Homo sapiens: one gene and its partner. The protein of the gene in region 1 interacts with the protein of each later gene in a pairwise test. Each region holds a gene or a part of one and is shown on either strand. Other genes may lie near its edges.

The links.
Region 2: the proteins of MS4A3 (region 1) and CDKN3 interact in a two-hybrid assay, tested with the Homo sapiens proteins (one study listed by BioGRID).

The regions. Positions count from the first base shown.
Region 1 is NC_000011.10:60,062,949-60,066,772, reverse strand, and holds part of MS4A3 (membrane-spanning 4-domains subfamily A member 3), read right to left. Parts: intron 2,512-3,824; coding exon 2,455-2,511; intron 1-2,454. UniProt on the Homo sapiens protein: Hematopoietic modulator for the G1-S cell cycle transition. Modulates the level of phosphorylation of cyclin-dependent kinase 2 (CDK2) through its direct binding to cyclin-dependent kinase inhibitor 3 (CDKN3/KAP).
Region 2 is NC_000014.9:54,406,979-54,410,802, forward strand, and holds part of CDKN3 (cyclin-dependent kinase inhibitor 3), read left to right. Parts: intron 1-1,766; coding exon 1,767-1,811; intron 1,812-3,824. UniProt on the Homo sapiens protein: May play a role in cell cycle regulation. Dual specificity CC phosphatase active toward substrates containing either phosphotyrosine or phosphoserine residues. Dephosphorylates CDK2 at 'Thr-160' in a cyclin-dependent manner.

The DNA of each region.
Region 1 (3,824 bases):
TATTCTAGCAATAAAAACAAAGAAAAAAGTAAACATACTATAGGTAAATTACATAATATTTTTGAAAGTGATTAAGTACTAGGGGCTAACAGAATGGGATAAGGAGAATCTGGGAATCCAAAGAGAGGAGTGGGGGTTCATGATATTAAATAGAAATGACACTGGGGAGAGGCATGAAAGAGCTGTGGGTGCCAGCCAGGAGGATATCTGGGGGAATATCCTTGAAATTAGGGAAACACTCAAAATCCTGAGGCCAGAATCTTCTGGGGCAGCAAAGGGGTCAAGGGCGTTGGAGGCACGTAGTCAATACTAGGAAATGAAGAAGAAGGAAAGTTAACAGAGAGCCAAATCATGTGGGGCTCTGCAGATCATGAAAAGGAACTTGTTTCTAACTCTAAGAAAAATACAAAGCCAATGAAGGATTTGGAGCAAATAAATGATATACTTGGCTTTATGGTTTCAAGGGATCACTGTTTCTAGCAAGGCAAAGAGAAGTTCAACGATAAAAGCTAGAAGCCCAATTAGGAGAGACAAGGTGGATTGGATGAAATGTCATCAATAGAAAGATAAGAAAAGGTCAAAACTGGATATAATAATAGCTTGAAAGTAGAGCCAACATTATTTGCTGATAAATAGGATTCAGGATTGTGAAAGAAAGAAGACTCTTGGTTATTCTAAGGTGTTTGGTCTGGGAATCTGGAAGGATGACATTCCCATCAGCTGACATGAGGAGAAGGTTTGAGGAAGAAGACTGGGAGTTGAGCTTTGGATCTTTACATGCCAGTCTGATGATCAGGAGAGACACCTGGGCTGGAAATACTTATTTCAGGGTTGTGGGCATACAGATATTACTTGAAGTCATAAGAATGTGTGAGATCACAGAAGAAGTACGTATAGATTGAGAAGAGCAGGTGGCAAAGAATTCAGCTCTGGGGCACCAGAACATTAAAAGGTCAGAGACAAGGAGAGGAACCAGGAAAGGAGACTGAGATGGAGAAAGCAAAAGATGGGAGGAAAACCAGCCAAGCAATGTATGCTGGAAGCCAAGTGAGGAAATTCCTGGAAGGAGGAGTGGGCGACTAACTATGCTAAATGCTACTCATAGCTTAAGTTAGATGAGGAACAAGAGTTGACCGTTGTTTTAGCAGGGTGGAAGTTTTCAGTGATCTTAAAGACAGCAGTTACAGAAGGATAGTAGGGAATAAAATAAAGTCTTATTGAAGTGGGTTTGATTCAAACCGGTAGATGGAAATCAGAGAAAGAACATGATGATTCCTTTGAAGGAGTTTAGCTACAGAAGGAAAATACAAATTGTGCCTGTCCCTAGCAGGGAGAAATAATGTCAAGGTTTTCTTGTTTTGTTTTGTTTTGTTTTGTTTTTAAGTTGAGAACAGTAACTGGATGTTTACATGCTGATTAGAGATGGGGCAAGGTAACTCACGCCTGTAACCCCAGCCTTTTGGGAGGCTGAGGCAGGAGGACTGCTTGAGCCCAAGATTTTGAGACCAGCCTGGGCAACATGGCAAGATCCTGTCTCTACAAAAAAAAAAAAAAAAAAGACAAAAATTAGCCAGGGATGGTGGCACACACCTGTAGTCCCAGCTATGTGAGAGGCTGAGGTGGGAGGATTGCATGAGCCCTGGAAGGTGGAGGCTGTAGTGAGCTGTGACCACACCACTGCACTCCCATCTGGGTGACAGAGTGAGACTCGAAAAATATATATATAGCAGAGAGACAAAAATTAAAGTGATGCACTTGTGTGGGGAAAAAAAGAATGGAATCTTATACTCAAGTAGGGAGATCAGCTTTAAAGAAAATCACAAAATTTTCCTATGGTAAGAGGCTAGAAGAAAAAAATACATTGGTACAGATCTAGTCCATTAGTAGTGGAGGTCTGAAAATTCCCTTCTAATGGCTTCAGTTTTCTCAGAAGAGACAGAAAAATCATCAGCAGAGAGTAAGGATGACAGAAGTGGGATTGGTGTTTGAGGATACAATAAAATGGTAAAATAGCTATCCATGGAGGAGGGAAAGTGAATGAATGGAGTAGGAAAGTGGAGTATCAGTGGCTACGTGACTCACTAAGAACACATCATAGAGACTTAGCAGTTGTTTAGAATAGAAGTTTGGACTTTCAGTTGTCAAACTAGTTAGTGGTGGGAGTTCTTACTTCCAAATAATTAGAATTGGTCAAACTTGACAACACATAAAAATCAAGAAGACTTTTTCTAAGCTTCAAGTTCACCAATATTAAGAGCAAGCATCCCAGGAATGCATCCTCACAATGTATGTGATCTGCTGACCTACCATCTGAACACGTTAAGAAAACTAATATTTTGTGCATTAAATGATACTCAGTGTCTCAGTTGTATTCATGGACACTTACTGTCCTACTGTTTATGAATAATATATTTCTACTCCTCTGATCATAGAAAAAGAGGAAGTGCTACTTACCCATGTTCTTGTGGGTTTTATCCCTGCTACAACAGACAAGGTTCCTGAACTACAGAACTGTTTGAAAATAGGAAGGAAAACAGATAAAGGAATATTAAGTCTCAACCATTTTCTTCTTGGTCCTCCCTCAATTAGCAGATATCCAGCAATAGTCATACAAACCTCCCTTTTAAATTCACATCCTAGGACACAGAATTGTACTTGATGCTGCTCACTTTATTTATTTATTTATTTATTTATTTATTTATTTAGTCTTTCCATGCAATTAGTTTTATTCATTTTATTTTTTAAATTTTTTTTATTTCCATACGTTATTGGGGAACAGGTGGTGTTTGGTTACATGGATAAGTTCTTTAGTGGTAATTTGTGAGATTTTGGTGCACCCATCACCCAAACAGTATACACTGCACACAATTTGTAGCCTTTTATCCCTCACCTCCTTCCCACCTTTCCCCCTGAGTCCCCAAAGTCCATTGTGTCATTCTTATGCCTTTGCATCCTCATAGCTTAGCTCCCGCTTATAAGTGAGAACATATGATGTTTGATTTTCCACTCCTGAGTTACTTCACTTAGGATAATGGCTTATGCAAGGATTTAATGACGAAGAAGCCAAAAACAAATGCAATAAAATCAAAGATAAATAGCTGGGACCTAATTAAACTAAGGAGCTTTTGCACGGCAAAAGGAACAGTCAGCAGAGTAAACAGACAACCCATAGAGTGGGAGAAAATCTTCACAATCTATACATCTAACAAAGGACTAATATCCAGAATCTGCAATGAACCCAAACAAATCACCAAGAAATAAACAAACAATCCCATCAAAAAATGGGCTAAGGACATGAATAGACAATTCTCAAAAGAAGATATACAAATGGCCAACAAACATATCATTCACTTTTTAAAAATGAACCATCAGGGAAGTAATAAATAATCAAAACTGAATGAATACATTTTAAAATCACCCCTATTTCTTCTGATTGAATGTTGACCCAGATAATGGAAATGATTCTTCTGACTTTCAGACAGTAATCAGCAGACAAATTTCTTAACTCTCAAGCCAGGACTCTCTGCTGTACCACAAGGCAATTCATCAATACCCATTTTTCATTCAATTTTTTAAGTATCTATAAATGTAACATATAGTTATATATAAGATAATTTTTAGGACTTCATTTGTACTTGGCAAATGTGGTTTCTCTTAATCAGAAAGAGATTTTTGGCCTGGCATCAGGGCTCATGCCTGGCAATTCCAGCATTTTGGGAGGCCAAGCTGGGAGGACCACTTGTGGTCAGGAGTTCGAGACCATCCTGGAAAACATGGTGAATCCCTGTCTCTACTAAAAATACAAAAACAAAAATTAGGTGGGC
Region 2 (3,824 bases), on another chromosome or scaffold:
TATCTACGTTTGGTCTTTGATGTTGGTGACTTTTGAATGGGGGTTTCTGCGTGGGCGTCCTTTCCGTTGATGTTGATGCTATTGCTTTCTGTTTGTTAGTTTTCCTTGTAACAGTCAGGCCCCTCTTCTGCAGGTCTGCTGGAGTTTGCTCGAGGTCCACTCCAGACCCTGTTTTCCTGGGTATCACCAGTGGAGGCTGCAGAACAGCAAAGATTGCTGCCTGCTCCTTCCTCTGGAAGTTTCGTCCCAGAGGGGCACCTGCCGGATGCCAGCTGGAGTTCTCCTGTACGAAGTGTCTGTCGACCCCTGCTGGGAGGTGTCTCCCCGTTAGGAGGCGCGGGGTTCAGGGACCCACTTGAGGAGGCAGTCTGTCCCTTAGCAAAGCTCGAGCACTGTGCTGGGAGATCTGTTGCTCTCTTCGGAGCCAGCAGGCAGAAATGTTTAAGTCTGCTGAAGCTGTGCCCACAGCCATCCCTTCCGCCAGGTGCTCTCTCCTAGGGAGAAGGGAGTTTATCTATAAGCCCCTGACTGGAACTGCTGCCTTTCTTTCAGAGATGCCCTGCCCAGAGTGGAGGAATCTAGAGAGGCAGTCTGGCTACCATGGCTTTTCCACACTGTGGTGGGTTCCGCACCCAGTTCAAACTTCCGACTGGCTTTGTTTACACTGTGAGGGGAAAACTGCCCACTCAAGCCTCAATAATGGTGGATGCCCCTCCCCCCACCAAGCTGGAACATCCCAGGTTGACTTCAGACTGCTGTGCTGGCAGTGAGAATTTCAAGCCAGTGGATCTTAGCTTGTTGGGCTCCGTTGGGGGTGGGATCCACAGAGCAAGACCACTCAGCTCCCTGGCTTCAGCCCTCTTTCCAGGGGAGTGAATGGTTCTGTCTTGCTGGCATTCCAAGTACCACTCAGTTGGAAATGCAGAAATCACCCGTCTTCTTTCTGCATTGGTCTTGCTGGGAGCTGCAGACCAGAGCTGTTCCTATTCAGCCATCTTGCCCGGGAATCCCACATTTTCTTTATCTACTCATTAATTGATGGGCATTTGGGCTGGTTTTACATTTTTGCAGTTGGAAATTATGTTGCTATAAACATGTGTGTGCAAGTATCTTTTTCATATAATGACTTCTTTTCCTCTGGGTATATACCTAGTTGTAGGATTGCTGGTCAAATGGTAGTTCTACTTTTAGTTCTTTAAGGCATCTCCACACTGTTTTCCATAGTGGTTGTACTAGTTTACATTTCCACCAGCAGTGTAAAAGTGTTCCCTTTTCACCACATCCGTGCCAACAATATATTTAGAACAAGTATTTGGTCAACTAACACATCATTCTCTATACTGGGCAATAAGTAAATTTCACAGACCATCAGCACTGGGGAACACACTTTGCGAAGCCCTCATGGTGGACTATAGTTAAAGGAACATAGATCTACCTTTCAGCCCTTCCAGATCTGCAGTCACAGCCCTACACTTGTACTTTGCCAATCTTAATAAAGCTTAAAGCCTGGAGTACAAATGAGGCTGAGGACTACAACCAGGTACTTGTTACAGAAGAAACACAGAATACAGAATCCTTGCTTAGGATGAATCCCTGTAATTATATTCCTAGAAATATAAGAAATTGAAATTCATATTCAAAATATAATTGAAACATATAAATGATTACGTGAAATGACTTTATAAAGTAGCTATATAAGTGTTTAAACATACCTGTTACATATGACGAAAAACTGACTTTTTTACTTGCTTTATTATTACTTATAGGTTGTAAATTTAAAGATGTTAGAAGAAATGTCCAAAAAGATACAGGTAGGTATAATATCACGCAACCACACTCATGGGTTTTTTAAATGAATAGCATTGAAAAACTCTCTGTCAAAAAGAACAAATCAGTTTTTTTTTAATATAAAAATAAGTTTTCAATATTGTGTGAAGTTCCAAACTATAGACTTATTCTGATATGTAAAGAGGTATTTGTGAAGACCATCATTTACCTAACCATGGAGTTGCTTTTCACTGATTGTTGTAGTTATATTATACATATAAACTACATTTGAGGTTAGAATGTAGAAGTTGGCATGAAAAAAAGTATGTAAATAGGAAACTGACATATTGCTCCCCCCAGGTCTTTACTGTTCCTTGCAGACTTGACTGTGGTAGTAGAAATTAAACATGAGCTGGGAACTCCAAGTTAGCAGTGAAATTGTGAATCCTGGATGGAAAATTTTGAGAGCCAGCATCTAGATGGAAAAGACAGAATGGGAACTGGTTGTTGCCTGCTCAAGGATGTTCATACCATTATAGCCACAAGTCTAATAATCCTCATAATCTGCCCCAATTTGGAATTTACATATTGCATGATACTAACAAATGTGGATTTTCAAAAGATTTTATTCTGATTGGCCTGGAATGTCTCAAACCTACTAGTCCTACCGATATCCTTATAGTATGGCAAATTAAAATGTATATATTGCTTGATTCTAACTAGTATAGATTTTCTGAATCTTAAAAACTTTTCGTGGTTATTCTAGAACATCAGTTTGCTAATGTACTTTTAAAAATTTATTCCTGGTCAGGTGCAGTGGTTCACACCTGTAATCCCAGCATTTTGGTAGGCCGAGGCGGGTTGATCGCTTGAGCTCAGGAGTTCGAGACCAGCCTGGGCAACAAGGCAAAACCCTGTCTCTGCAAAAAATACAAAAATTAACTGGGCATGATGGCGCGTGCTTGTAGTCCCAGCAACTTGGGAGGCTGAGATGGGAGGATCACTTGAGCCCAGGAGGTCAAAGCTGCAGTGAGCTGAGATGGTGCTGAGATCACAAGGTCTTGCTCTGTCATCCAGGCTGGAGTGCAATGAGCTGAGATTGCATTACTGCACTCCAACCTGGTGGCAGAGCAAGACCCTGCCTCAAAAAAAAAAAAAAAGTATTCCTTACCTACCAAAAAAAGACTTAAAGACAGTAATAGATAGTTGACCCTTATAGTATTTATAAAACTTTTCTGCTTTAGACACACCCACCATGCTAGGAAATTTCTATTTGGAGAACATTTAGGTCATAAGCAAAATATATGTAATTTAAATCATTGGTTCAAAGTCAGTCTTGTACATTTTGGAATGTCATATTCATTTAGCATTTTCTATAAAAACAGTTTCCAATTTTTTTCAAAATACTTTTTTTTCTGCAATGAAATCTTAAATGGAATCCAGTACATAAAACAGGTCAATATGTTTGATTGGAGACCTAGAATCTCCCTGCAGCAGTTCCTGAGATACTTTCTTAGCCCTTTCTCAGAAAGTTGGAAAATCACTGGATAATAAAAATTACCAAATGTGTACAAAAGGCAAATAGATGTATAGTACTGTACATCTCAGGGATTAGTTCATGAGAAGGTACTTTGTACTTAAATAGCTACATGTCCTTGGATTTAAGGGACAGGGAGAGGGCTGGAGTTGGGAGCACTTAGATCATCCAGTTATTTATTTTAAACCAAATGCTCAATAGTTAATATTGCCATAAAGAAGTCCTAGTGTATAGAATGCCTATAGTATTCATATCATTATAATGAGAATAGCTAGGTCACAGAAGTTTAATACAGGTAATGTTTTATTTACTGGCGACCTAGTCTATAAAATTAAATACACAAGGATGTGTTACAGTGCAGATATGAGGGAGAATACTAGCACCTCTGACACCATGGCCATGCTGGAGATTTTATATACAATACTCAGAGTCAAGCAAACAGCTAAGTGATGAAGTAGCAGACATGGTTGATTTTGTGAGAAAAAGAAAAAAAGTGCTATCATCCTTAATTGAACATAGA